Regions from separate parts of the Homo sapiens genome. Here all the other regions are linked to region 2. Evidence: fine-mapped expression QTL. A gene starts in region 2. Each other region holds a variant in brackets. All regions are shown on one strand. Distances are from middle to middle. Region 1 overlaps UNC13B (unc-13 homolog B). Region 2 holds the start of UNC13B (unc-13 homolog B). Region 3 overlaps UNC13B (unc-13 homolog B).

Region 1 (10,566 bases), 120 kb before region 2:
AGACTCCAACTCAAAAAAAAAAAAGAAAGAAAGAAAGAAAGAAAAAGAAATGAAACTAACTCTAAAGGAAAGATAATTTATGATAACTTATAACAAGTTCAAAAACAGGCAAAACCAAAAAGTTAGCTGGGCATGGTGGTGCAGGCTTGTGGTCCCAGCTACATGGGAGGCTGAGGCAGGACAACTCACAGAATTCAACGAAACATTTTACTTATGTTTACCCGTCTACGGTAGAGGATATTACAAAGGACATAGTTGAACAGCCACATGAAGAAATACACAGAACAAGGTCTGGAAGAGTCCTGGGCACAGGAGCTTCTGCCCTGTGGATTTGCGATGCACCACCCTCCCAGCACACGGATGTGTTTGCCAACACAGAGGCTCCAAAAATCCACAGTTTTGGGATTTTTATGGAGGCTTTATCATATAGACACAATCTATTATAAGTAGTATTAGTGGTATTATTTTTTTGTAGAAACAGGGCCTCACTATGTTGTCCAGGCTGGTCTCAAGCTTCTGGAGTCATCCTACTGCTTCAGCCTCCCAAAGTGCTGGGATTACAGACAGGAGCCACTGTGCCTGACCTGGCATGATCAATTATTAACTCAATCTCCAGTTCCTCTCCCTTTCCTGAAGGAAAGGGAATGGGGCTAAAATTTCCAGGCTTCTTGGGAGGCCAAGGTGGGTGGATCATTTGAGGTCAGGAGTTCGAGACCAGCCTGGCCAACATAGTGAAACCTCTTCTCTACTAAAAATACAAAAATTAGCCAAGCATGGTGGCAGGCACCTGTAATCCCAGCTACTTGGGAGGCTAAGGCAGGAGAATCACTTGAACTTGGGAGGTGGAGGTTGCAGTGAGCCAAGATCACAGCCACTGCACTCCAGCCTGGGTGACAGAGTGAAACTCCATCTCAAAAAAAAAAAAAAAAAAAAAAAGTTCCAAGCTTCCAAACATGGCTTGGTCTGTCTGATAACTGGTTCCTATGTGGAAGCCCATCAAGAGTCCCTCATTAGAACAACAGACATTCCTAGTATCCATAAAATTCTAAGAGATTAGGAGCTCTGTGTCAGGAACCAGGGACAAAGACCAAAATATATGTTTCTTATTATAAAATCACAGTATCACAGCCCCCAGTGGTAATGGCATTGTATTTACAGTGTTAAAAATTCTCTAGAAATACGGGAGTATAGCAAGTACACCTCATGTCCAAAACCACCAAACTCCCAATACTTTGAAATCAGAAACCACAGGACCATTCTTAAAATTCCTCTTTATTTCCCATGTCCAATCAGTCAACAAACTTAGTAGTTAATTCTGCTGAAATCTCCTTCCTTTTGTGCTTTCCTTGAAGATTTAACTATCCTTATCAAGAAACTTATTACCTTATGAATTATTAGAGATTACAGAATTATTCTGAATTATTACAGATATTTGACTGGACTTTTTAAAAATTTGTTTTTAGAAACCAGGTCTTGCCCTGTCACCCATGCTGGAGTGCAGTGACAATCATGGCTCATTGCTGCCTCAACCAATCCTCCTACCCTAGCCTCCTGAGAAGCTGGGACTACAGGCACGTGCCATCACACTCGACTAATTTTTGTTTTCTGTAGAGATGGGGTCTCACCATGTTGCCCAGGCTGGTCTCAAACTCCCAAGCTCAAGCAATCCACCTGCCTCAGGCTCCCAAAGTGCTGGGATTACAGGAGTGAACCATGTGCCTGGCCATCTTTTAATTTTAATAATTACTTGAGGCTCTTGTTTAGAATGTAAATTTTAAACTCTACTCACAGAGATTCTAATTCAAAGGGCTTTTCAACAAGAAACTTGGTGACTCTCATGCCAATGATTCTTGAATTACATTGCGAAAAACACAGCTATAGAATTTCCTATATGAAAAAGCCACAGTCTCCCAGACAGAAGAATAATACTCCTGTGCTAATGGAGGAAGAAGGCAGCCAGACCCACTATCCTACTGAGCCTGAAGAAAAGTTCAATGTCATCATACAGTGAAAAAATTCTAGCAGTTCTAAGACGAAAGTACATCCTCTTTCCTAGAAGGTAAACCTCTGCACTTATCCCCATCCCCTAGGCTGGCTGACTAGGCTACAGCAACACACTCACAGGCTGCTTCTTCTGCACATTTTATCTTGTTTCTAGTGGAAAATGTAAGAAATCAGAAATAGTCACATTAAAAAGTAAGGTCTACAATTATCAAACAAAACACCCCCAGGCAACTGTTACACCACCCATTAGTAGTCCAGTACTGGCTAATGTTTCCATGACATTAAAATGATGGAATACTTAAGCCCCAGACTCCATGTGAACAGCCATCTGTCTAGGCAATGACAGGAACTCACCTATCAACTACTAAATTGTAGTAATTACCAGGTATCTCATAAGGACCATAAACTCAAACACTAGAAATTATTCTCTTCCCTTTTTCTAGACAGTTGATTCGGTAAGTACTGTAGAACTTCTCTTTCTACGGAAGACAGTAGTAAAGAACCTATAATTAAGGAAAACACTTCAAATCTAACATAGGAGAATAACAAAAAACTATTCACCAACGTTACTTGTGATATAGATAGAAAAATCCAAAATGAAATACAAGCAAATCAAGCCTAGCATTATAGTAAAAGAATAATTCACCATAACCAAGTAGGTTATATTTTAGAAAGGCAAAGATGATTTATTAATAGAAACTGATTAATGCATTCATTATATTAATAAGTCAAAGAAAAATATCCATGAATTGGTTAAGTACTATTAATGCATTTTGAAATGTTCAACATCCACTAATATTTTTAAATATGCAAGCTCTACTGAAGTATAAGATAGAGAAAAATATACAAATCATAACCGTACTGCTCAACGTTTTTGTTTTTTTGGTTTTTTTGAAACAGAATCTTGCTCTGTCAACCAGGCTGGAGTGCAGTGACATGATCTCAGCTCACTGTAACCTCTGCCTCCCGGGTTCAGGCAATTCTCCTGCCTCAGCCTCCCAAGTAGCTGGACTACAGGCTACAGTCGCATGCCACCACGCCTGGCTAATTTTTGTATTTTTAGTAGAGATGGGATTTCACCATGTTGGCCAGGCTTGTCTCAAACTCCTGACCTCAAGTGATCCCCCGGCCTCAGCCTCCCAAAGTTCTGGGATTACAGGCGTGAAACACCACGCCCGGCCTGTACTGCTCAATGAATACTGTGAACACACTCAGGTAACCAGCACACAGATCAAGAAACAGCATTCCCAGGACCCAGCAAAACTCTTCCTACTCCTTTTCAGTAGCTACCAGCTTTTGAACTAGCTGTTCACGCTGCCTATCACACTCTTTCCCCAGAGAGCCACGTTAATTCCCTCACCTATTTCAACTCTATTGAAATGTCACCTTCTCATGTGGCCAATACTCAGAATTTTATTTAAAATTGCAACTCAACTCCAATTCTAGCATTACCAACTGCCTTTCACTCTTTTATTGGTTCACTCTCTAACATCCTATATTATTTCCTTATTATGTTAATTGTCTATTTCTTCCCACCCAGGATCTTTGTTTTGCTCTCTGATATATCCTAAACACCTAGAACAAAACCTGGAATGTAAGTGTCAAAAAAATGTTTGTAGAAGAAAGTAACAAAAGGAAAAGAGGAGAGGGGGTGAAGAGGTGGGTGGGGGGCACGGTGTTGTTGAGTGGGCCAGTGAGGCTAAATGTGAAAATAAGTACCAGCAGCAGAAATATAAATAGGTAAAATATTTTTATACAATTTGATAGTGTCTAACAAAATTATAAATGTATATATTCTTTAACCCAATGATTCCACTTATAGAAATGCATTTATTCAACTAATATTTATTGGGCAAAGGTACTATGGATACACAGATAAGCATATTAATAAATCAAAGGAAAATACCTATGAACAATGGGTATACTCATGAAATGTATGGCCTAAAGAAGGGAACAAATATTAATCAAATAATCATACAAACTGAGAAAGTGCCATAGAGGAAAAATACATACTGTGTAATAGAGGATGGGAGATTCATTTGAACATGTTTACAAAAAAAAGTGTATAAAGTTGCTCACTATAGTATTGTGTTTTAGCAGCAAAAACTGGGGAACAATCCAAATGTCTACAAATTGGGGAAAAAATTTTAAATTATAGTATACTCAAACTATGGAATATGCCTGGCATCAATATCATCAATCTTCAATGTGCAACTACAATTTACAGGAAATACAAAGGACAGAAGAGTGTGTTAAGCTAAACTTATAGGAATGTTTTGAGCAAAATCGGGAATGTAAAAAACTCTGTAAGTCAAACAAAACCATATAGTCAAATGGCCTGATTTCTTCAATAAACAAATTGTAAGGAAAAAAAAGCAAGAGACGGAGGGGGAACCCATAGAATAAAAAATAATTGTAAGACATGATCAGGCATGGTGGCTCACACCTGTAATCCCATCACTTTGGGAGACTGAGGCAGGCAGATCACCTGAGGTCAGGAGTTCGAGACCAGCCTGGCCAACATGGTGAAATCCCATCTCTACTAAAAATACAAAAAAAATTATCCGGGTGTGGTGGCATGTGCCTGTAGTCCTAGCTACTCAGGAGGCTAAAGCAGGAGAATCTCTTGATCCCAGGAGGCAGAGGTTGCAGTGAGCCGAGATCACAGCCACTGCACTCCAGCCTGGGTGACAGAGTGAGACTATCCCAAAAACAAAACAAAACAAAACAAACAAAAAAAATTGTAAGACATATCAAAAAGAGAAAACAAGAAAACAAGCAAAAACAAACTCTAGTGTTTAAAGATACATACTTGGGTGACAACATATAAAGAACAAGAAGAGAGTAATTATTATAAAAGTTGGGATAGTAGGTACTTTTAGGGAAGAGGGGGTTGTGATTGGGAAGAGGCATATGGAGGCTTTCTGGGGTGGTTGGCAAAGGTCTATCTTTTACCTACCTTATACTAATACATTTAAACATTTGTTTTATAAAGTTGTCTATATATCTGTGTTATATTCTACCATTAAAAAGATTTTTAATGCAGCAAACTGCTCACATCACTATAATCACTGCTATCTAATTGTTTCATTCCTCTGCATAAAGTCATCAAAGGTTCCCCCTTGCCTTCAAGATAAAATATAAACAGCTTGCTATGGCATTCAAGCCCTTTGTGATATGAGTTCTCTGTGTCTCTCTGGCCTCATCTGACCCTTCCCCACTCTTCTTATTCCCTCCACCGAAGCCATCAAGAATTTTCAACTTGCAGTACCCCAAGGTACCTTAAGTCATGCTTTTTCATCTTAGTGTCCTTGTACTATGAACTCTTTTCTCCTTCTTCACTTAACTGTCTGCTACTCATCCTTTAAGACTCAATTTATGCCAAGGATCTGGGGAGAGGTAGAAATGAATAGGTAAACTACAGAAGATTTTTAGGGCAGCGTAACTATTCTATACTATAAGGGTGGATATGTGTCATCACACATTTGTCAAAATCCATAGAATGTACAATACAAAGAGAGAACCATAACGTAAACTACAGACTTTGTTTGAGATATCATTTCCTCTGGGAAGCAGTTCCTAACCATCCCAAATTTGTATTACATTCTCTTTCTCTGTATTCCTTGAATATCAAGTACTTACGTTCCCATTCACTTATCAAATGGTACTACTTATGTTTCTTCCTCTCTGGACTTGAGCTCCCTGAGGTCAGGGACTTTCATTCCTCTCTCTCTCTTTTTTTTTTTTTTGAGACAGTCTCTCACTCCCAGGCTCGAGTGCAGTGGTGTGATCTCAGCTCACTGCAACATCTGCCCCTAGCGTTCAAGCAATTCTCCTACCTCTGCCTCTCGAGTAGC[T/C]GCGATTACAGGAAAGTGCCACCATGCCCAGCTAATTTTTTTTTTTTTTTTTTGAGATAGAGTCTTGCTCTGTCACCAGGCTGGAGTGCAGTGGCGTGATCTCGGCTCACTGCAACCTCCGTCTCCCAGGTTCAAGCAATTCCCCTGCCTCAGCCTCCTGAGTAGCTGGGACTACAGGCGCATGCCACCACGCCCAGCTAATTTTTTGTATTTTTTAGTAGAGACAGGGTTTCACCATGTTGGTCAGGATGGTCTCGATCTCCTGACCTCGTGATCCACCCGCCTCAGCCTCCCAATGAAACCTATAACAAGAAGCCATCAGATGACCACGCTTTTATGGTAATAACTGACCTTTATGCATATACAACACACACTGTACTCAGCATAGACACCTAAGTGTTGCTAGCAAATGAAACTTTGATACATTAATCTGACATTTTTAACATGGTTAATTGTGTATAATTGTAACTGAACATAAATTATAATAAGTTGATGTAATGACTGCAATTAACCACCTCAAATTTCTTTTTAGAGGAAGCCAGGATAGAAATAAATAAATGAGTCAGAAGACTACAATTAACATTATTTTTATCAGCCAAACCATATTGTAATAGTTTCTCTCTTTTCTTTTTAGTTTGCCAGCACCTATAATTAGCATCAATATCAGCTGCTTCCACTGATACCACATATCTAGTGTAAAACTCATCACCCACCCTTACTGACAGTCCTAGACCCATTGCACTGCCTTACCACTAAAATAATACTCCCTGTGCACTCACTCTAAGGAGTCCATAACTAGTATATTTTCGTGTCTCTCAGAGTCTTAGTCCTAGACTGGAGGTACCAGAAGCTATACCCTGTCTGATCCTTTACTTCCCACTCCCCAATGGGATAAGGTAATAGGAAAAAGAATGTTCCAGCCAGTAAGAGATACCTTGACCAGGACATGGGGAGTGGGGTGAGATGGAGTATGTTACCTTTTGAACCCTTTCTTCCTACTTTTCATTTATCCTACTAGGAATAATCTCTCCTTTCAAACTTTACATTGCAAATAACTTCTTCAAAAGTCATCTCGAAACTCATCTTTTCTAGAATGCCTTCCTGAACAAACTTTATACCATTCTCAACCATTTGCTTCTTCTTCTGTCACCTCAGCACTTTCCTCTCTACTTCCACAATATTATTATTGAAAATGAAATCAAAGGATTACCCAAAATTAACATGTAAGCAGAAAGACAGAAGTTAAACCAGAGGAAGAACTTTGACCAGGACACTAAACAAAAGGCCCAGTTATCAAGACCTCTTTTTGGGGAATCAGAAAATCAGACGGCCCAGATGGTAGAGGAGAAAAAGACAGGATAAGCAGGCAAGCAGAAAGGAGACTCAGTGAATCATGGCACAGGAACTGTTTGCCTATGGCTATCCTCAGTGTGCCATCTCTGCAATATAATTTTGTAGGAAGGGTGACTATTCCTAAAAGCTAAGGAAAGATGAAGCACTCTCATACTTTGTAAGTGGGAATATAAATAGTACAGCCTCCATAGTGGGCAATTCTGTAACATATTTCAAAATTCAAATGCATTGTTAAATGTACAATGCTTTGGCCCAGCAATCGCACTTTTAGCTATTCATCCAACAGATATATTCACACATGTATAAAATTATGTATATAAAATATCAATTTCAGTATTGTAACTGCAAATACTGGAAGCAACTTAAATGTACATTAATAGCCATTCTAATCCTAGTATATACCCAAAAGAACTGAAAACAGCTATTCAAATACTTGTACACTGTTGTTCATAGCAGCACTATTCACAATAGCCAAAAGTGGTTTAAAAAAAAACATATTTCATCAACTATGAATGGATAAACAAAATATGGTATATCTGTACAATGAATTAGTATTCAGCCATAAGATGGGATAAAGGACTGATACATGCCACAATGGTGAATGCACCTCAAAAACATTATGCTGCTAAATAAACCAGTCACAAAAGGCCTAATACTATATGATTCCATTTATGTGAAATATCGAGAATGGGTAAATCCATAGAGACAGAAAGTAGATCAGTGGTTGCCAGCGGTGAGGGGTGGAGAGAATGGAGAGTGACCGTTTAATGGGTATGAGGTCTCCTTTGAGGGGGATAAAAATGTTTTGGAACTAGACAGGTAATGGTTCTACAATTTATGAATGTACTAAATGTCACTAAATTATATATTTAAAATGGTTTATTTTATGCTACATGAGTTTCACCTCAATTTTTAAAATGTCCATTATTATGAACCTGTTCCCTACATGTAGTCATACATATTATATGATAAAAAGCAAGACACTAAACACAGTTCATAGCATACTACCATTCATGGGGGTGGGGGAATATATATTTATATGTTTGTGAATGCATAAACTCTTTCTAGAGAAATCCACAGTAAATGGCAGTAGTGGTTACCTCTGGGTAGAAACTGTATGGCTAAAGGACAGGGTACAGAAAAAAAGCTGTTTTTCATAGCATACATTTTTACATCGAATTTTGTACCTTATGCACATGTTTCCTTTCAAAAAATAAAATAAAATGGGGAAAATATCCTACTTATAAGATAAACAAGAATCAGCTACCTATGGAACTCCAGAATGATTAGGATGCTTTAATGCAAGAGCCAATATAGAAGGCTCAGACAAAAAAAAAAAGTGGCAAAAAGGTAGAAGAAGGTGGCAAAAGAAGTATATGACCTGGGGACCTATGCCTTCTGGGATTTTAAAAATGAGAAGGAGAAATAGAGGACATTGAAGAAGTGGATGAATCTGCAGAGTGGAGGCCAGCTGGTCATGCAATCCTATTTTCCTGCAGGGCATGTGGTCCTGGGTAAATAAGTAAAAAGTAATCATAAGGCTCTTCTGCTTCCAGTGTTCACAGAAACAGGTCTTCCATCACAGCAACAAAATTTTAGCCACCAAAATCTTAAGCGGCTCAAAACTTTCAATTCTACGACACATTTAAACAGAGAGAAGGTGATAGATGATAATGAGGACTCTACGTATCTGGAGTAAAAGAAAGAAAAGGCTCCCAAAGAAATGAATCTGCCAAACTGGGCGAGCCCTGTACATCTTGGCTTTTTGAAGGCCAACAACAACAAGAGGATTCATTTCCTCTGGCAGATTAGCAAGTACAACTATGACATCACTGTACTCTAAGCCAGTGTGTCCTGCATCTTTGTAATCCTCTCCTCATTCTTTTCATTTATACTACTGTGAACAATCTCTCATTTCAATGAACACATCTCGATTAGTTCTTTCAAAAGTAATTTCTAAACATATGTTTCTGGAAAGCCTTCTTGAACAAACTTTATGCCATTCTTAACCATTTATTTATTCCTTTGCCACCTCGGGACTTTCCTTCTTTCCATGGTATTACTGTGTACCCATTGAGGGTACTTTCCATGGTATTACTGTGTACCCATTGAGGGTACTTTCCATGGTATTACTGTGTACACAATGTGAATATGTAATTATAAATTACATATTCAAGTTGCTGTCTTTGTATATTTACCTCTTCGGACTTGAGTCTAGGTTGTGATTCAGATCTTTTGATTGTTTTTGCATTCTCCCATTAATTCTTTCCTAGCCTCTGCAAATATACTCCCTGGTTTACATAGCTACTCACTAAGAACAAGAACCCCCCGAGAAAATATAAAAGCCTTTGCAAAGGAGAAAATGAAAAGCTCTATAATGGATAAGCTCCTTTGTACTTCAGGGCTCTGGATTTCTTTTCTGTAATGCTGAAGTCTCAAAGCTTCACAGGAAAAATTAGGAAAAGTATGACAGTTCTCTGTCTGGCATCTGCTTCAATGTCATTTCTACTAGGGATACCCCTGAGCATTCTAATGCTTATAAATTACCTTACAATATAGCCAACAAAGCTTTAGCTATTGCCAAACTCATGTCTCAATCGCCTGAATATGAGTCTAGTAGTCACAATTACAGAAGCTTTCTAGCAATCTACAAGCTCTGGAGAAAGTAAATTTCCAACCCAAAGAAAAAGGATGCCATCTTCCAGAAAATACTGCAAATTACACTCTTATTCAATGATCATTGTTTTTTTTCCTCTAAAGGTTAAATTGTCTTTCCCTAAAACCTGGATGGGATGAGGTCCCTCAGGGGCAAACAACCAAGCGTCACTCCCTGAGTACCTAACATATCAGACAGCAAAACTAAGAAACCAAAGACTATGTCCCTACACTTGCAATTCACCAGTCCCATATGAAGGAAAACACTGTCACTCAGGGAGCATGATAAATCTAAGAAAAACTTCTGAGTACATTACTAAACTATACTAAAGGATAATGATGAGTGGTAGGCTAATGGGTATTAGTTTCATTATTATGCTCTAAAACTTTTGTATTTTACATTTATTCTTTTGTAATTCAGACAAAAAGAACAATTTGGCCTTTGTGGGAGGGAAAACAATTATCATTGAAAGACACCGCATAATTAAATTTTTGACTCATTTTTTAAAAATAAAAATTAAAATGTTGGGGGAATATACACGAAACTGTGAAGACTAGTTATCCCGGAGTGGAATAGAGGGGGAAATTGAAGAGTACTTTCACTTTCTATATTACACATTTCTGAATCATTTGAAGACTTTTATAGTACCCATGTTACGTATTTCTATTTTTTACAAAGTTTAAAATAAGAAAGGGA
Region 2 (10,566 bases):
ATGATCTTGGCTCACTGCAACCTTGCCTCCTGGGTTCAAGCAATTCTCATGCCTCAGCCTCCCAAGTAGCTAGGATTACAGGTGAGCACCACCACACCTGGCTAATTTTTGTATTTTTAGTAGAGATGGGGTTTCACCACGTTGGCCAGGCTGGTCTCAAACTCATGTCCTCAAGTGATCCACCTGTCTCAGCCTTCCAAAGTGCTGGGATTACAGGCAAGAGCCACCACGACTGGCCTGCATTTATTACTTTTGGGGGAAAAAAATCCATAGTTAAATTATCTAACTATGTTATAAACACTGGGAATAACTATGTTATAAACACTGGGAATTACAGAGAAATATTATGGAAAGGTCTGATTCTAAAAATGCTTATAATTGCTTGGAGAAACTTGGTCGTGAATACCAAGACAATAAAAGTCAAACAAAATCCTTAATTTAGTTTACTGCAGTTGTTCATGTGGCACTGGTCCCTATGGAAGCCCAAAAAAAGTATCCGTATTATAAGTAAAGCTGTGCCAAAACATGTTAAAGACTTATATTTCTTTATACTTATGGAAATATTTAAAGAAAGACTAAGTGAATTCTATAAAAGAGTGGTTTCTTAAAAATTCAAGTCTAGGCCGGGCGCAGTGGCTCACGCCTGTAATCCCAGCACTTTGGGAGGCCGAGGTGGGCAGATCACGAGGTCAGGAGTTTGAGACCAGCCTGGCCAACATGGTGAAACCCCGTCTCTACTAAAAATACAAAAAATTAGCCAGGCATGGTGGCAGGCGCCTGTAATCCCAGCTACCCCAGAGGCTAAGGCAGGAGAATCGCTTGAACCTGGGAGGCAGAAGTTGCAGTGAGCTGAGATCATGCCACTGCACTCCAGCCTGGGCAACAGAGACTCCATCTCAAAAAATTAAAAAAAAAAAAAAAAAAAAATTCAAGTCAATCACCCGCTGAATGGTCAATATCCCCTTTAGAATCCTTACCACTCATTCAATTTCTGTTTAGTGTCAAAAAATCTACATAGCCCATTCCATTTGTTCTGAACAACCCAACTGTTCTTCTTTATGTTAAGCTAAAATCTAATTTCCTGTCATTTTCAACCACTGATCCACACTTGTCCCAGTTCTGTCCTCTGGAATGACAACAAAAAAGGTGACATAACTTCTACAAGACAGTTTTTTAAACAGTCTTCATGTACTATCGTGATCCTCTTCCTCTTAAATCTTCTACAACTAAATTTCCCATATTCTTCAAATGGTTCGGTTCCTACATGTTTCATTATTCTAATCACTCCCCTCTTAAGATAACCTAGCTTCTCAATATGCTTCTTAGAAGGAAATACCACAGCTGAACACAAAATTCCAGATCTGATCTGACCAGTGCAATTACTTCCTTTGTCTGGGTCACCATAAGCACCACAATACAAGACCAGTTGCAGGCAGCATATGATTCATTTCCAAACTAGTGGCACTGTTCAGACCACAAGTGCTCCGAGGATTTAAAGGAAAAAGAGATCACTGTGGACTGGGGACCTGAAGAAGTTTTCAACAACAAAAAAAGTAGACTGTTAGCTGGGAAAGTAAGAATACATTTTAGATAGGCAGAAAATATGGAACGAGTATTTCAGGGGGCACAAGTGCAGAACAGAGCAGAGGCAGGAATAAACAAAGTTAGTGCTAGAGCAAAGTCTGCATAAGGATAGGCAAGAATAGAAGGCCACAAGTCTGGAGTCAGAGTATTGAGAGCCTTAAACCTGCAGGCAATAAGGCATGATTAAAGGGCAAGACAAAATAACTGACTTCTTGAATGAAATGTTTAGGAATGATTAATTCAATACCAGTTTGCCAATTTCTACATCAAGTTAACTACTTTTTGAACTCTGCATAGGAAGTTTCTAATTGATTCTACTCCAAGATGAATTGAAATTGAGTTGTAATAAATATCACTATATAGACTGCTTTCAGAATACAACATTCCTACTGCCAAAATACAACGCAAGGAATGTCATTTTAGAAAGATGTATTTTGTGCTGGGTGCAGTGGATTATGCCTCTAATCCCAGCACTTTGGAAGGCCAAGGCAGATGGATCACTTGAGGTCAGAAGTTCAAGACCAGCCTAGCCAACACAGTGAAACTCTGTCTCTACAAAAAATACAAAAATTAGCCGGGCCTGGTGGTTCACTCCTGTAATTCCAGCTGCTCGGGAGGCTGAGGCATGAGAATCACTTGAACCCAGGAGGTGGAGGTTGCAGTGAGCCAAGATCGCAGCACTGCACTCCAGCCTGGGTGACAGAATGAGACTCTGTCTCAAAAAAAGAAAAAGAAATAAAAATAAAGATGTATTTCAATTCATTTCTGTAAGTTTTCCCAAAATGAATACTTTGCCATTCAATATGAATATCTGCATATAAGGTACCTGTTTGTTTCAGTATTTAAAATCTTCTAGATCTCTATTCAAAAAGACAATGGCCTGCTGATCTCGTTTCTCCAGATTCAAAAAAGAAGAAACTTCACTAAAGTAACATTAAAAAGGAAAGAAGTTAGCTAAATAGCAGAATTTCTAGACAATGAAACCTGCCTGCTATTAAAACAAATGAAAACACCAGTAGTTATATAAATTCAGTTAAATAGGAATTTCTGATTCACGAGTGCTCCTGCCTAAAGAGTCTTTCATAAGGACCAGCTCTGTAATACAGTGTGGCCGTAGAGAATTAAACTGTCCAAGAGACACAGCAAAGTCCAACCTCTCCCAAATCCTGCTACTCAGCAGCAGGGATCTAAAGGAATAAATAGATTCCCAGCTGCTGAGAGAAAATGTCTTACTAAAAGCAAAGCAAAATTCTCATTAATGAAAAATCAACCATGAAAGAAGAAAAACTGTATATCTCATAATCCCGGGAAATGGCCAAATCCATTTTGGTTAATGCAGATTCAACAAAATAGTGGAAGAGAACAGAGCAAAGCAGTTTCATCTGCCAGTAGCTGGGGGAAACATCGTTATTGGAGAAATCACAAACAACAACAATGCTTCTAATCTGTAGAGCCAAAAGAAATATGAACTCTCCAGTAAAAGATATCAGGTAAAGGCTCTAGTTGATAAATGCTCTCTCATTCATAATCAAGACACATCAGATATGATAGGCTGTAACCTGAATTTCCCGAGATCAAATTCAATGGCTAATCCAAACCCTGTGTTTTCCTGATCAGATAATCTCTCTGAAGTCACAGTACTTGCATTCATTCAAAACCAGCATTAAGCTTCTACTACGTCAGACACCAGGAATACAAAAACTAATAAGAAACAGTCTCTACCCACATAGAACTTAGTTCGCGTACCATGCCTCATCTTAAACCCCAAAGCTCTTGCTTTAAGATATCTTCTTAGATGGGTCAAGTGTCCTCAGGGGAAAAGCAATAATGGCCCTTCACCTTGAGTTACTGTGAGGCAAGCTAAAATAAAAATAAAAATAAATCATACCTCTTATCCTCAAAAGCAGTCACCACATCCTCCCAAGTGGAACAGAAGAATAATCTTAGCCTATACTACCGGTTAGTGTTCAGGGAAGTGGCAGGGGACAAGACAAGCAATAGAAGGGATGTGACAGCTGTACCACTAACGCATTCAAAGTGTGATAAAAAGAACCTGCTACTAAGCATACTGTAGCGTTACGGTGCGAGGAGGAGGAAAAGAATGAGAGGCTGCCCACCATTCACAGGCACCAACCATCCGCGGTCTTCTAACTCGTCCACTCTCACTAGAGAACCCCAGTCACTGTTTAATAGGATCTGAGCCTGCAGTCCAACAACATTGTCACATGGCTACCAGAATGGAGAGCTAATCGTCCCTTGCAGGAGCTTGGGGGAAAACAAGAAAGTGGAAAGAACTCAAGTGATTGTTAAGTGATTGCCAAAATAATAGACCCCCAAAGCACGGACGGGATGTAAAGTTTGGGTGAGACGGTCACCGGACGTCCACTGGAAGGGTGCGGGGACCTCTACGCCGACACCCCGCCTCCCCGCCTCAGTCCGCGCACTCACCGCGCACGCAGAGCAGTGACATGGCCGAGGATCGGGCAAGCCTCTGCCGCGCCCCAGCCGCGCCGGACCGCTCCCTCTTTCCTCTCAGCAGGTGCCGCGACTGCTCTCGTTACCGGCCCCACGGGTCTGGCAGCTCCTCATGGTCCCGGTCGCAGGTAGCGTCCCGCCGCTGCCTCGGACCCGCCCCAAATCTCACCGTCTGAGCGAACTCCGGGTAGCGGTGAGTACCGGCCGGCAGGCTGGGGACTGGGCGCGGCACAGCGACGCCATCGCTGGGAGGTAGGAGCTGCCGGGACTCCCTCCCGTCATTCCACCCGGGATCCGCGCGAGCGCCTGGGCGGAGCCAACCCGTGGTGCCCCGCCCCCCAGCCAATTAACTCACGCCCAGTCCACCGACCCCGCCCCCCCCCGCGAGCACGTAGGAGGCGGGGTCCCCTTCCTCCTTTCTTTCTTGCGATCCTGAAGGAAGCTCCGCCCACTAATCAGGCTTACTGCAGGGAGCAAGGGGTTGACCCTCAGTTGTGTGACGCGAGAATGGAAGCCCTCTGTTCCTCCTGCATGAGCGGGGCTTCCACCCAAGAACAGATTCTTTTCATTGAAGGATTTCCACTGGACTTTCTTAGAGTCTAGCGGTCATAGCTGACAGCCTGTAATTTTAAGTTAACGAAGTCGCACCGCACAGCAAAGTTAAGTTTTGTTTAGCAACTAGGGCAAAAGACAAAACTGAGTGGGCATAAAGTATGTCTGGAGACCTCAGTTCTTATCTAGACCGTTTTTTATGCTCATCATTGTATCTCCAATGTCTGGAATAGTGCCTAGTGTATGGTAATCAGTCCGTAAATATTTACTGAATGAAGGATGGTAACCACGGAGGGATTGTGAGTGGAGATACCTCTGATCTTTGACAAATCTCCTATCCATGCTTGGTACCAACATGAGCTAACTCCATGGCTCAAACCAACAGGACAATTTGCTAAGGTCTAGGAGCACCCCCTCCAGAGAATCCCTGATCTCCCAAAATTTGGTCGAGATCTAAAGTTCATTTTGTTGTACAACTCCCTCTATTATTATTATTATTATTATTATTATTATTATTATTTTGGAGTTTTACTTGCTTCCAACAAGGAAGGCAAGTTTTCCTGCTTCCATGACGAGGGAAGGCAGGTAACTCTTTTATGGAGTTTGAGCTCACTTCCAACAGGGAAGATGAGGGGTTTTTTTCCTACTTCTGGGATGGTAGACAGCCGTTTTCAGCCTGAGACGCACCCCTAGGTAAGTAGCTGAATAGGGATTTTTGTCTTGGCTAAAGTTAACAACCAGCTGGTCTTAATTTCTGCTTACCATTAGAGTGCTCAGTGATCATATTGTTGGGTTTTTTTTTATTTTGTTTGTCTTTTTCCCATTGACCAACTCTACTTCACTTGGTCAAATCCAAGTGAGAATTCCAAATTATGGGTAACAAGGCCTATCTAATTTGAGTAAAATTCCTCACAGCTGCAAAAGAAAAAACAAACAGAAAACAAAAAACCATGTATTTGGTTTCTGTGTTTGCTTCCTGGTCTTAAAAATTAAACTGTTCTTAGGCCGGGCGCGGTGGCTCACACCTGTAATCCTAGCACTTTGGGAGGCCGAGGCGGGCGGATCACGAGGTCAGGAGTTCAAGGCCAGCCTGGCCAACATAGTGAAACCCTGTCTCTACTGAAAATACAAAAAAAATTAGCCGGGCATGGTGGCGGGTGCCTGTAATCCCAGCTACTCGGGAGGCTGAGGCAGGAGAATTGCTTGAACCAGGAGGCGCAGGTTGCAGTGAGTGGAGATCGAGCCATTGCACTCCAGCCTGAGCTACAGTGTGAGACTCTGTCTCAAATTAAAAAAAAAAAAAAAAAAAATTCAATTGTTCTTTTGTTTACTTTTCTTCCACCCTATACCTCCTTCACCCTTTGCCATCTGCATTACCAAAAAATCGAGAGAAGGCTTCTAATGACTTGAACCTCTTTAAAGAATTTAGGCCGGGCGCCATGGTTCACGCCTGTAATCCCAGCACTTTGGGAGGCCGAGGTGGGCGGATCACGAGGTCAGGAGTTCGAGACTCAGCCTCGCCAACATGATGAAACCCTGTCTCGACTAAAGATACAAAAAAAGTTAGCCAGGCATGGTGGCACGTGCCTGTAATCCCAGCTACTCAGGAGGCAGAGGCAGGAGAATCACTTGAACCTGGGAGGCGGAGGTTGCAGTGAGCTGAGATCGTGCCATTGCACTCCAGCCTGGGTGACAGGGCAAGACTCTATCTCAAAAAAAAAAAAAGAATTTAGAACAAAGGTGCCACTCACCCCCTTTTGGGGTGTTCTCTTGGCTTTGTGGGATTTCAAGAGTCATGGGCAGATTCTTCTTAGGTCTAAAGCTCTGTTTTCCTGTATTGCATGACCTGACCTTTTTGGCTTTGGGTGCCAGAGATGACCTTGCACTGTGAGAGGATTTGACCTTGGTGTGTATATTGTTGGAAAAGAGCTACAAAGTTACGGGTGGCTGAGCACAGTTTATAGGAAGTGGTTTTGGCTGTTTCCTTTTTTTTTTTTTTTTTTTTTTTTAATTTTCTCTCCTAGGAAGTCGTTGTTTAAGAATCCTAATTCTAGGCCAGGTGCGGTGGTTCACACCTGTAATCCCAGCACTTTGGGAGGCTGAGGCGGGCGGACCACTTGACCCCACAAGTTCAAGATTAGCCGGGCCTGGTGGTGTGCACCTGTAATCCCAGCTATTCGAAGGCTGAGGTAGGGCAATTGCTTGAACCAGGGAGGTGGAAGTTGCACTGTGCCGAGATCGTGCCACTGCACTCAGCCTGGGCGACAGAGCGAGACTCCATCTCAAAAAAAAAAAAAAATCCTAATTCTAGTTTGGAGATCCGTTCTGAAGGATCCTTTATATTGCTTTTTCTCCCAACATTAATCTCAATTCCGTTTGTCTGTGTGCATTTGCATGAGGAACTGAACTGTTGCTTTCATAGGTATATCAGAGACTGAGTTTTCTCAGCTCCAAAAAGAAAGGGCATTTGCCCCTCCCAACTGAAAGGTGCCCCTGAGTGACTGGGGACCTTGTGGGAGTGTCTGAAAGGTTGACCCCGAACGATGTGCAGTGGTCCTGCAGGGAAATCCCCAACAAAAATTAATTTAGGCCAGGTGCGGTCACACACACATAATCCTAGCATTTCAGGAGGCCGAGGCAGGCAGATCACTTGAGGTCATGAGTTCAAGACCAAGCCTGACAAACATAGCAAAACCGCATCTCTACTAATAATACAAAAATTAGCCAGGTGTAGTGGTGCGTGCCTGTAACCCCAGTTGCTTAGGAGACTGAGACGTAAGAATTGCCCGAACCCAGAAAGTGGAGGTTGCAGTGAACCAAGATTATGCCACTGCACTCCAGCCGGGGCAACAGAGTAAGACCTTGTCTCAAAAAAATATATATATATATATTTAATTTAAAAACTGGCTCATCCAGGAAACACATTGAAGGGCTGATCACCCAGTGTTGTGAGCCCTCTCAGAAGTCATAAACCTCTGGAGAGAGAAACTGAGACATGTAAGAGGGTGGAAACCATTCAGTGGTGGCACATTGTGGAGTCCTGCCCACAAGCAGCACGTGATGATCCACCACACAGAAACTCTAAGCCACAGCTCAGTTTCTCCTTTTAAGAAAAAAAGAAGTGGAAAACAAATAATCTAAGAATGAGAAGAAAACAAGGAGAATGACCCTCTTTTGAGCACTCTGTAGGTTTTATGGCACCTCTACTGCCAAAGTTTATGTAAAATGGAAAAAATATGGTCTTTGTGCACATTTACATTAAGAAAAAAGAGCCCTAAGGTCGACCTACTAATTATAGAGTTCCTAAGACCTCTTTTCTCTATTCTTTTCTGCCTGCTCTAAATCTGCCATTATTTTCTGTTAAGATAAAAACCACAGTTTAGATCCAACAAGTTCTTTTTGCAAACCGGTAAATTTGAATTTATCTCATAGCTAAAAGTTCTGAAGTAAAAGCTATAGGATGTGTGTGTGTGTGTATTTAAAAGGCTTTTATAATTTCTATAATTTTATGTTTAATTGGCCATTAAATCTGTTTCAATTTCCGTCTAGCACACCAGACTTTTTCTCTCCACACTTTATAATGTAAATTTTGCTGTTTGGAGTTCACCTGAGTTGTTTTCTTTAATATGCAAATTTAAGGCTATTTAGCTGACAACTGCCTAGGGTTGTGAAACAGGTTATCAAGAATCTGAAAGTAGCGGGGAGGGAGGAGGGGAAAAAAAGAATCTGAAAGCCTAAGGAAAAAAAACGTTTTTTATGAATCTATAAGAGGTACCTCTAGGCCAGGTGCAGTGGTTCACGCCTGTAATCCCAACACTCTGGGAGGCCGAGGTGGGCAGATCACCTAAGGTCAAGAGTTCGAGACCAGCCTGGACAACATGGTGAAACCTGTCTCTACTAAAAATACAAAAATAGCCAGGCGTGGTGGCACATGCCTGTAGTCCCAGCTACTCGGGAGGCCGAAGCAGAAGTATCACTTGAACCCAGCGGGTAGAAGTTGCAGTGAGCTGAGATCATGCCATTGCACTCCAGCCTGGGTGACAAGAGAAAAACTCTGTCTCAAAAAAAAAAAAAAAAAGATGTACCTCTATCAGCATGCCTAATGTGTCTATGTATTTATGTGTTGTGTACACAATGTTTCACTACTGAAAATATATAAAAGAGCTCTAATTAATTGGCGTAAGAAAATAAAAGTGCTTAAATCAAACACTTATTCAGGAAAAAATAAAATAGTCAAATGCTTTTTCAAGTTTACATAACTTAAGTAAAATCTTTACTAATGTTGATGAAAAAAATCAAACTCTGTAAAATATTTGAAGAGATTTATTCTAAGCCAAATATGAGTAACCATGGCCCATGACACAGCCCTCAGGAGGTCTTGAGAACATGAGCCCCAGGTAGTTGGGGTGCAGCTTGGTTTTATAAATTTTTGGGAGGCATGAGACATCAATCAAATACATTTAAGAAATACATTGGTTTGGTCCAGAAAGACGGAACAACTCAAAGGGGGGCTTCCAGACTATAGGTAAATTTAAACATTTTCTGGTTGAAAATTGGTTGAGTTTGTCTAAAGACCAGGGATCATAGAAAGGAAATATTTAGGTTAAGAAAAAACACTGTGGAGACCAAGGTTCTTTTGAAGTCTTATAGTGGCTGCCCTTAGAGAAAATAGATGACAAATATTTCCAATTCAGATCTTCAAAGGGTGCTAGACTTTTAGTTAATCTCTTTAGGATTGAGAGGGCCTGAAAGAAAAAGATTTAGCTATGTTAATAGAGATTCTTTATATATGCACATTTTACCCCACAAAGGACAGCTTTGCAGGCCATTTCAATAGATGGCAAAGAAACATGATTTAAGGTAAAATATTTTGTTTTGCTTCCTTGTCTCATAATGTTATGCCACAGTCAGGTTGGAAAGTAAGTCACAATATATAGGGTTAAGTAAAAACCATCTAATAATTTATTATTTGTAGCGCATGACTCCCCAGACCCCTTACACAGGAATTTGAGCAAGATATAAAATCAGAATTTAGTCCTCACTGAGCTAGGTTTAAAATTATTGTTACATTAATGTTAGAAATGTCTTAGGAATTGCCAGCATACATTTTTGTTTGTGTCAGGCCTCTGAGCCCAAGCCTGCACCTATACATCCAGAAGACCTGAGGAAGCTGAAGAACCACGAAAGAAGTGAAAATGGCCAGTTCCTGCCTTAACTGATGACATTAACTTGTGAAATTCCTTCTCCTGGACAATGAGTCTCAAAAGCTCCCCCACTGAGCACCTTGTGACCCCCACCCCTGCCCGCAAGAGGACAACCCCCTTTGACTGTAATTTTCCACTACCTACCCAAATCCTATAAAATTGCCCCAACCCTAACTCCCTTTGCTAACTCTCTTTTCCGACTCACCCCGCCTGCACCCAGGTGATTAAAAAGCTTTATTGCTCACACAAAGCCTGTTTGGTGGTCTCTTCACACGGACGCACTTGACATTTGGTGCCGAAGACCCAGGACAGGGAGACTCCTTCGGAAGACAGGTCCCCTGTCCTCACCATCACTCCATGAGGAGATCCACCTAAGACCTCGGGTCCTCAGACCAGCTCAAGGAATACCTTACCAACTTCAAATCGGGTAAGCGGTCTTTTCACTCTCTTCTCTAGCCTCTCTTGCTACCCTTCAATCTCCCTGTCCTTCCAATTCCAGTTCATTTTCCTCTCTAGTAGAGACAAAGGAGACACATTTTATCTGTGGACCCAAAACACCAGCGCTGGTCACGGACTTGAGAAAACAGACTTCCCTTGGTGTTTGATCATTGTGGGGATGCCTGCCCTGATCATTCACCCACATTCCATTGGTGTCTGATCACCGTGGGGACGCCTGCCTTGGTCATTCACCTACATTCCCTTAGTGGCAAGTCAATTGCAGGGATGCCTGCTTTGGCTGCTCATCCACATT
Region 3 (10,566 bases), 110 kb before region 2:
TCAGAATAAATGAATGAGTAAATAAAACCAATTCAAAGGATGGAAAGAATAATCAAAAGATCTCTCTAATGTATATACCTGTATATTCGAACAGCAGTAAAACCTCTTGAATGATTCACAAGAAAATGCTAACGATGATTACCTCTGGGGAGAAGACCCAAGTGGCTGGGGAATAGGAACAGGAGGGAGACTTTTTACTATACTCCCTTTAATATTTTAAAACTCCTATACAAAGTATATTACCTATTCAATAAATGAATTAATTTTAATTAAAACAAAGGGCAGTAGCCACGTAAGAAAAGCACATATTTCTGAATGGCAAATTATATCCCATGAGATTTTTGCCACCACAGGGTGGTGGTATAGCGGAAAGAACACAGACATTTGAGTCAAGCTGACCAAAGTTTTAACTCTAGTTTACCCATTTCCTAGAAACAAGTGATGCAGAAAAAGATAACTGGTTGGGAGACTTGGGAGAAAAAAAGACTCTGAGCTGCTCTTCACAATACCATGCAAAGTGGCCATCAAGAATTCATAACTTTATCCAGCCAAGGTAAAGAAAAGAAAAAAAAAGAATTCAAAACTAACAAGAAAACCAATACATTCTACAACTTTAAATCACAAATGACTTTGAGAGTGCAGAATTTTAACCTAGAGGACACTGAACAAAAAGCTCCAAACCCATGATATCTATTGAAGTATGATTTCACAGTATGACAAAAAATGATTGGGAAAGTTATGGAGCTGGACATCTCTTTTATGGGGGAGCACTGCAATTTGGATGCAGCCAAAGGCCAGCTGGTGTAGGGACTAAATAGCCCACTCACAGGGCCCTGAATTTAAGTGAACAGCATACATATTATATTATGGCTTCAAGAAGTGGATACATTTATAATTAAACCCAAGGTAGCAATGTCCCAGAGGAACCTGGGCATCAGGAGAGAGTTCAATAATCTCTCAGGTCTCCCAGGATTATCTTTGGCATTTGTCCCCCAAATTTCATTGTGGGGCATTCTTTATGAAGGCTGTCAGAAGTCCTAGCAGGCCATCCTAATGTCTTCAAAGGGCCTGCCACAGAATAAGAACATGTCATTATAAGGGGATACAGAGGACAGATTTTCTGAGTTCTGTCCCTTCAAAATTCAATTATGGTGAGAGATTCTGGTTCTCTTTAAGGCATTATTAGGAACATGGATTAATCTACTATATGCTCTTGAATCTGTAAGACATGCAAATTCTTGACTGGGTGTGGTGGCTCACACCTGTAATCACAGCAGTTTGGGAGGCTAAGGCAGAGGATAGCTTGAGGCCAGGAGTTTGAGACCAGCCTGGGCAACATAGTGAGACCCCCATTTCTACAAAAAAAGAAAAGAAAAGAATGCTAGTACTAGTTGAGAGTGCGAGGCCACAAAGCTCTCTAAGAGATATATCTCCTGATAGGCAGGGGTTATCAGTATGGTGGCTACTGTCATACGGAAAATAAGTAATACAGATCCAGATTTCTAACCAGGCTTCTTTTTTACTTGGAGCTGTGCGAGGTAGTTAGGTCTGATGGTCAGGAAGCACTAGATCCTCTCAAGATGGTGTTCTCTGGCATGAAATGGTGGAGTGATAGTCCCATACTCTACATGATCAAGCTTTGACACAGTAATTGCCACTTGGGTCAGCTCCCTCTGGCTGTGGTGGGTCCAGAATAAAAGAAAGGTATCCTGGACCAAAAACGAGTGGACAACATTTCCTGTTCTACTTAAAGTCTATAAGACCCAACTACGAAAGCAAGTCCTAGCCTCCATTGAGAGGCGGCCAACACAGCCCACAGGCCTAAAGCTAGTCTTGTTTCTGGTAGGTGTGAAAATGAGACTAAGAGAAGCACTGGCAGTACCTGCCTAGCGTTTTTTTTGTGGTTGATTTTAGTTGGGGATTATACCATCATCACTTGTAGAGCAGGCAGGAACCTAATCGTCCAAGTGGGGAATACCTAGTTACATATACAGAATGACCCATTTCTCTGCCTCCCCTAACAGGTAGAATATTAGAAATAAGACAGGTAATAGAGTGGCAGTGAACAGTTTTAGATGGAGACCAAGAATAATAAGAGGCTATAAGAGGAGTATTTGAATATGGTGCACACTAGGAATATGAATATCAGGTCTAATGGCTGAAAACTAGTGGAAAGCATTGAAAACCTACTGCTTGCCATCTAAGAATCAACAAATATCAACGCAATGGACACTAGGACCAGGACATTTGACAGTAAGAGTTGAAAATGAGGAAAGGTAAGTAATTTTATTAAACATGCCTCTTTTGGATATGCTGGTAAAAGAAATTCTTCTGAAGTTTGTGGTGGTCAAATAATTTGTCACAACCCAGCAACTAAGCAGTATATTACTGACAATGCTTCTGAATGTTTGGTCACTTGTTATTCATGATATGACTCACATCCAACTGTTCTGAACTGATTCATTCTTCAAGAAAATTTTTAAACAATATGTTGGGTTATGCCGTTTTACTAATTTAAAAGAATGATTCGTACTCAGGACATTTTGGTTTATGATTTGTATAGATCACTAATTATAGGCAATACTGTAAGAAAACCAGTGAAACAAACCCTTAATAGATAACCAGAAAAATCTCTTTGAAACTCCAAGGTGGGCTATATCTCAAGCAAAAGTTCAAGCTATCTTTTAGATCATAATACATATAGAAATAACATAGACCCCAGAAGCTTTTTGTTTCAGACACGGTAAGTAGTTAAGGGAGGCTTTAGGGATATCATTAATAAAAGGTACACTGCAACTCTAAAAGCTACGTGGAATTTTCAGTGAAGGAATCACTGGTATTGTTGAACTAAACTATGTCAATCTCAACAATAAATTATCATTCAACTAAGTCTCAAATTCAAACTAAAAAAGTGAATCTACAATAACTTGCTTCTGTATTGTCAGGCTTGGGTTATTTTAAAATATTTATCCCTTTTAAAATTATTATAAAACAAATGCATGTTCTTTGGAGGAAATCTGGAAAGTACAATAAAGTATAAAGAAAAAATAAAACAGGCCGGGCGTGGTGGCTCACGCCTGTAATCCCAACACTTTGGGAGGCCGAGGTGGGTAGATCACTTGAGGTCAGGAGTTCGAGGCCAGCCTGGCCAACATGGTGAAACCCTGTCTCTACTAAAAATACAAAAATTAGCCACGTGTGGTGGTAGGTGCCTGTAATCCCAGCTACTCGAGAGGCTGAGGCAGGAGAATTGCTTGAACCTAGGAGGCAAAGGTTGCAGTGACCCAAGATTCTGCCACTGCACTCCAGCCTGGACGACAGAGTGAGACTCCATCTCAAAAAAAAAAAACAAAAACAAAAAAAAACAAAAAAAACAAAATGAAACAACCAAAAAAAAAAACAAAAAAATTATATTTCCTTGTGGTTTTTCTACGTACATATGTATATAATTTATTTCTTAGATAACTGAGATCATCTTAATCAGGTTAGGATCCTATTTTTTAGAACTTATACACATAAATATTTCCTCTATCTTAAAAATTTATGTAAAAGTATACAATTCCATCATATGGAAATACCATAATTATCCATTCTTCCTTTCTTTGTAATTTTTCACTATTATAAATAAAACCTATACATAAATCTTCCTTTGAACCTCTAGTTATTTTCCTTGAATACTTCCTAGAAGTAAAATCACTGAGTTAGAAAGGTTGTACTAATTTACACACCCTAGCAGTTTCACCACGTTGGCCAGGATGGTTTTGATGTAAGTAGTCATCTCACCAAACCTTCGTCACATGCTAAATCACTTTTGATTCAATTCTCAATTGTAGCCAGTGATACTGTCATTAATACAGTGGGTGGGCAAGGCAGACATGTATAAAAATTGAAAAGAGCAGAAAGTTGTTGAATTTAGTAGTAGTCAGACTGGTATGGCAACATGGTGTGTTGCTACATTCTTTGACAAGATATAGGTAGAAATATTATCCTTATTGAAGAGTGAAGTGTAAATACCTTAGAAACTTTAGGTATGTTTGGAAAAGGAACAGACCAGTTTATCCCTCTAGCTCAACTTCTGACCATTTAGCCTTGTGGCTAAATGTTTATATTATACTGATACCATTTGTTGCAAGATTTGTATCAAATATGCAAATCAGATTGCACAGCCTCAGAACAGCTCTATAAATTGAGGAGCAATAAGACCTGCAAAAGTAAACATGATGTACTGAGGCTCAAGCATGCAAAAAGCCACATGCGTCTCCTGGCATCTGCTACCAACTCCCAGCTGAGGCCACATCTGAAGAACATATCCTAAAAGAAAGTATATCCACTTTCTAATGTGAATATATAAAATCTAATCTGCTAAAAGGAAGGAAAGTAATGGGAACATGTGGTGGTAGTAAGAATGATTTTAACAAAGATGCAGAGGCAATTTAATGGGGGGAGAAATGTCCTTTTTTTTTTTTTTTTTTTTGAAATGGAGTCTCACTCTGTCATCCAGGCTGGAGTGCAGTGGCGCAATCTCGGCTCACTAAAACCTCCACCTCCCAGGTTCAAGCCATTCTCCTGTCTCAGCCTCCTGAGTAGCTGAGACTACAGGTGTACACCACCACACCCAGCTAACTTTTGTATTTTTAGTAGAGATGGGGTTTCACCATGTTGGCCAGGATGGTCTCGATCTCCTGACCTCGTGATCCACCTGCCTCGGCCTCCCAGAGTGCTGGGATTACAGGCATGAGCCACCGTGCCTGGCCGAAAATGCCTTTTTAACAAATGGTCTTAGGACAACTGGAAATCCACATGCAAAAAGACGATCTTCACTCAAATCACACCACATACAAATGCAATGTGTGAACCTTGATTAACTTCTACAATGGTGCAAAAAGGACAAGAAAGTTTGGGGGAAAACTGGGGATATTTGAATATAGGATAGATACTGATGACATTATAAAATTTTGTTAAATTTTTGGTGTGCTGGTGGTTTTGTAATCTTATGTGAGTTTATATTCTAAGGTTAAAAAAAAACTTTCAAGAATCTTAAAGACTGTTGTCTTATTGTTGATAATAGCACTGGGTATATTAATCCTAAAATTTGTTTGTGTACATTACAGGACACAGCAAATGAATAAATAATTTGATGTTCTTGGGAACAGAGGTTCTCACTGGAAGATATACATGTATATGTGTGTGTATATACACATGTGTGTATATATGTGTATATATATGTGCATAATACACAAACACATACATACACACACACACACACACACACATATATATACATAGAGAGAGAGAGAATATATGAAAGGAGACCAGGAAAACCTTGTGATGAGGGTGTTAATTGGTGATACCAGTATGAAGAACATAGTGTGTTCCCTAGTTCCATCCAAAGAGCCAAGAAGCAAGAGCCCTCCTGTAGCAACGAGCAAAACTAGTGCCAAGATCTTGATTTTTAAATACCATTCCCCACTAAAAATAACCAGCCTCATTGGAGAAATGACTTATTCTAGGACTGAGAAGGCAAAGTACAAGATGAGCTTGGAATATTTTGTACTAAGGAAGGAAGGAAGTGGTCAAAGAATGATAGGGCCATGTCAAAAGGACACAGGATCTAGTTAAAAGGAACACCCATAGGCCAAATTCAGGACAATTTGAGCATCAAAGAAAATGGCAGAACAGGATTACAAAACACTGGGTTCAAAAAAAAAAATCATGTGTCCATAGTGATACTCATTTTAAAAGAGGGGTGGGGGTATGCGAAGAAGGAAAGCTCTTCTTTACAAAAGACTG[A/G]CAACTGTTCAGTATAATAACAGTGTGACACAATAAGAAATAAATATTTGGTCTCTGCCTGCAGTTCTTGGCACAGAGCTTCTAAAACCCTTTTAACTCCTTGAGTGATAGGGATAAGACTGTCTTTTGTTATTCATAGTAAGCCCCTTTCAATCATACCTGAGTTAATGCTAATGTGATAACTCCTGGAGGATGGAGGCTAGTTGCCAAAAGAACCAACTTTGTGATTAGAGGGTTAGAACTTTCAGTCCCACCCCACAAACTCCAGGGAGAAAAGAGGGGCTGAAGGTTGAGCCAATTAATCATCAATGATCAATGATTTAACCAATCATACTTACATAATGATGTGTCCGTGAAAACCCCAGCCAAAGGGGTTTAGAGAGTTTCCACACTGGTGAACAAAAATGCACCCACAGGGAGAGTAGTGCACCCAAAACTCCACAGGGACAGAAGTTCCTGTGCTCAGACCCTTCTGGACTTCCTCCAATGTATCATTTCATCTGGCTATTTGTTTGTATCCTTTAAAATATCCTTTTAATCAATCGGTAATACCAAATTAACTGTTTTCCTGGGTTCTGTGAGCCATCCTAGCAAATTATTGAACCTGAGGAGGGGCTTGTGGGAACTCCAGTTTATAGCCAGTTGGTCAGAAGTTCAGGCAGTAACCTGGGATTTATGATTGGTCTCTAAAGTGGGAGGCAGTCTTGTGGGACTGAGCCCTTAACCTGTAGGGTCTGCACTAACTCCACATCTCTAGTGTCAGAATTAAGTCATGAGACACTCAGTTGATGTTAGCAGAGAATTGCTTGGTATGGAAAACATACTTGGTGTCAGAATTGTGCAAGTATAGAGAAACCATTTTTTCCTTTTAAAAAAGAATGACAGAATTAGAAAATCATCATTTTGCAACCACAGTGTAATAATAAATTTAGGCAATGATCATAATACATCCTAAAACTAATGCATGGAAGTTTATTTAAATAAAAGCAGTATACACACAGTCTCAAAGTATCACTGCCACTACACACTTAGTTACAAAGGAGAAAAATATCTTTGCAACAAAGAGATCTGGAAAACATCATCTGAACTAATAATTAACATCAGCATCACAAATAAAGGGACAAATTGACATCAGCTGTGCAGTAACCTGAATCTAATTACGAGGAAATAATCAGACAAATCCAGATTTTAGGAAATTTTTTCCGAGACAGAGTCTCGCTCTGTCGCCCAGGCTGGAGTACAGTGGTGCAATCTTGGCTCACCGCAACCTCCGTCTCACGGGTTCAAGCAATTCTTCTGCCTCAGCCTCCCGAGTAGCTAGGATTACAGGTGCCCGCCACCACACCTGGCTAATTTTTTGTATTTTTAGTATAGATGGGGTTTCACTGTGTTAGCCAGGATGGTCTCGATCTCTTGACCTCATGATCTGCCTGCCTCAGCCTCCCAAAGTGCTGGGATTACAGGCGTGAGCCACTGTGCCCAACCAGGAAATTTTGTTAAGACAATTTAACTAGATCCTTGTCAGCTGTCTTGTAGAATGTCTATGTCAATGTGGGACCCAGCAACCTTTGGGAGAGCAATTGTTGGTGAAGAGAGGTCACTCCTTCCCCTCTCCACCTCCTGGGGAGGGGAAAAACGAATGTTTTTCTGCTCTGAATCCAAGTGAGGAGGAGCTTCATAATTCACAAAGGTTAGGGATGCCTACAAGAATGGGAGTGGAGCCAGACAGGTTGGATGTCTGCTTGGACAGGAGACTTGCTGATGTGAACTGTGTACTTTTCTAAGCAGCCAAAAAGAACAGAGGAGGCAGAGCTGGGAGACAGAGAAGAGAATGGAACTGCTTGCCTATATCCTTTGTTTCTCAGGGCAAGAATAATTGAGTTCCCATGGGTCATGTGAATTCTGTGGAATGTGGGTGAGTCCCAGTTATCTTGATATTTCCCCATTCAAGAAGCCTCTAAGTAACAGGATACCAGCAGCAACAAGCTAAGTACATCTTTTGGTAGTAGTCAATAGCAGGACAAAAGAAGTTGAACCAGAGCAATCACTCACATAAGACCCCAGGGAGTCCCCAAAAGTAACCTTTGGAGACTCACACCTGCACCCCATTGAGAAAGCCAGCACTCACCTACACCTCAGAGGGCAGGAACAACCAAGCAATATCAGCCAGAGAGGCAACAACCACCAACAAAGAGATCAATATGTCTCCTAGGAAAACTAATGTTATCACTCTTAGAAGACATATTCATCCTTCAGTCTCAACCTAAGTCTTGCCCCTGTCCCATGAAGACTGCTCTGAATACTGACACAGCATGTGAATAAGATACTGCAGTGTTTCTGCACATGTAACCCAGAACTTAAAGCATAATAATTTTTAAAAAGACACTGCAGTGAAGTGACTGCCCATGGCATGGATGTGTCTTTGTGAACTGGCATTCATCAAGATAGTCCAGGTCTCCTCCAGTCCTTAGTCACTCGGACACAGAGAACACTTCTGAGAGAGACATTTCTTATTCCTGCCCAAGTGGTTCCAATAGGACCAGAGGCTCACTTTCCCACTTCTAGAAAGCCCAAGACTCATTTTGGAGCAAGTGCAACTTGGAGCATAGGAATCTCTTTGTGATGGTCCATCTGCCTAAGACACAACACCTAGCCATCCCCTCTTTGACTCCTGCTGCTTCACCAGTGCCCTAACACAGAAAGCAGACACAAGGTCCCAATGTATCTCCCCTGGTCACTTTCTTTCTTTCTCTCCTCATTCTCTTGCATTTCTCTCCTCTCATTCAAGTCAAAAGAAGCTCTTCTTAGAAATTGGGAGATTCAGGTGAAACTCTGCTCCCTCTCATAATATTTGTCCAGAACACTTTGCATACTCTCCTAAAATCTTAGGCTTTGGGAAGTTAAAACCACAAAGATCACTTCTTCTGCTCTCTGCCTTACCTTTCTTTCAAGAAATGGGCACAAGTCAGCCTAAATGCTAGAAATGGTAATAAAATGGGGGATAAAAAACAGATGGACATAATAAATCACAATAATTACCCTACAACATTTTAAAATAAATATATCAGTTACCAAATGAGACAAAAACTTCACAGGATAAAAGTGAATGCAGAATGTTGTTACTGAATGCTAAAAGAGAAAGGCTTGACCTGAGACAAAGGGGAAAAGCAGATAGTTTGCCTCAATACTTTTAAAGAATCCCATCACCTTTAAGAGTATATCCAAATAACTGGGGCTAGAGTAACTCCTTTTATTTTTTTACTTTTTAAACTTATTTATTTTTAAATAGAGACAGGGTCTCGCTATGTTGCCCAGGCTGGTTTCAAACTGCTGGCCTCAAGTGATTCTCCTGCCTTGGCCTCCCAAAGTGCTGGGATTACAGGCATGAGCCACCACTTCCAGCCACAGTAACTCTTGTATCAAAGGGAGAGTTTCTTTAGAGCAGTAGCCCAGTGATTTCTGAAAATACTTTGGAAACATCTTATAAATGGCCGCAGAGGATTGATCCTAACACACTGGGTAGTGGAGGGGCCATCCACATGAAGGAATCTGAGGACTAGGAAGTAATAGAGTCATATGATGTGCTACAGCTGGAAAAGTCCTAGAGATCATCTAGAACACCACCTCCATTTATTACTTCAAGAAACTGAAGTTAACAGTGGGATGACTTCCAAAGTCACAGAGAGAGAGCAGCAAACCCAGGTTAAGAACAAGGACTCAACTGGGCTTGGTGGCTCAACGCCTATAATCCCAGCACTTTTGGAGACCAAGCCAGGCAGATCACTTGAGGTCAGGAGTTCAAGACCAGCCTGGCCAACAAAAATACAAAAATTAGCCGGGTGTGATGACACATGACTGTGGTCCCAGCTACTCGGAGGCTGAGGCAGGAGAATCACTTGAACCAGGGAGACGGAGGTTGCCGTGAGCCAAGATCGTGTCACTGCACTCCAGTCTGGGTGACAGAGTGAGAGAGACTCCATCGCAAAAAAAGGAAAAAGAATGAACAAGAACTCAATTACTTTTCTTAATAATAACTTTGTTTTTAATTGTAGAGATGGGGGTCTCACTATGTTGCTTGGACTAGTCTTGAACTTCAGCCTTAAGCCATCCTCCCGCTGCAGCCTCCCAAAATGCTGAAATTACAAGCATGAGCCACTGTGCCTGGCCAATAATAACTTTTAACTATTAAAAAAAATTTAAGGCCACAATCCCATATCCTAGAGACAAATTTGGTTAATATTTTGATCATTCTTTTCCTAGTAATTTTTCTTATAATTGTATAGATGCATTTACATAGTGTATACATCTGCTCAGGCTGCCATAACAAAATACCATAGGCTGGGGAGCTTAAACAACAACAATTTATTTTCTCACAGTCTGAGGCTGGAAAGCCCAAGGTCAATGTTCCCATAAGGTTTGGTTTCTGGTGAACAGTCTCTTCCTGGCTTGCAGATGGTCACCTTTTTGCTGTGTCCTCACATGGTGGAGAGAGCAAGCTCTGGTGTCTCTTCTTCTTAAATGGGCCCCAGCCCTGTCAGATTAGGGCTCCATCCTTATGACCTCATTTAACTTTTATCACTTCCTCACAGGTCCTATGTCCAAATACAGTCAAACTGGGGACTAGGGCTTCAACATATGAATTTGGAGGGGACACAATCAAGTTCATACAATTCTGCCCCAGCCCCCCATAATTCATGTCTTTATCCACACAAGATACATTCATTCCATCCCAACAGCCCCAAGTCTTAACTCATTCAATTTCCACTTCAAAGTCTA

What was found. PIP is the estimated chance that this variant, and not a neighbour inherited with it, causes the effect.
Region 1: its variant is fine-mapped to the expression of UNC13B in whole blood (TOPMed, PIP 0.95).
Region 3: its variant is fine-mapped to the expression of UNC13B in thyroid (GTEx, PIP above 0.99).

What each region holds. Positions count from the first base shown.
Region 1 is chr9:35,276,597-35,287,162 of GRCh38, reverse strand. The region is part of intron 7 of UNC13B (unc-13 homolog B); the gene reads right to left. Among named protein-coding and RNA genes, the nearest start is that of UNC13B, 120 kb to the right of the region's middle. The variant T/C (reference allele first, on the strand shown) is at 5,862.
Region 2 is chr9:35,155,772-35,166,337 of GRCh38, reverse strand. It overlaps UNC13B (unc-13 homolog B), which reads right to left and starts at 4,329. Exons shown (of 40, transcript NM_001371189.2): 1 at 4,033-4,329. The coding sequence starts at 4,054. It overlaps LOC124902147 (a long non-coding RNA gene), which reads left to right and starts at 9,904. Exons shown (of 2, transcript XR_007061469.1): 1 at 9,904-10,242. RefSeq lists a silencer at 4,334-4,463 and an enhancer at 7,970-8,523.
Region 3 is chr9:35,265,047-35,275,612 of GRCh38, reverse strand. The region is part of intron 7 of UNC13B (unc-13 homolog B); the gene reads right to left. Among named protein-coding and RNA genes, the nearest start is that of UNC13B, 110 kb to the right of the region's middle. The variant A/G (reference allele first, on the strand shown) is at 5,791.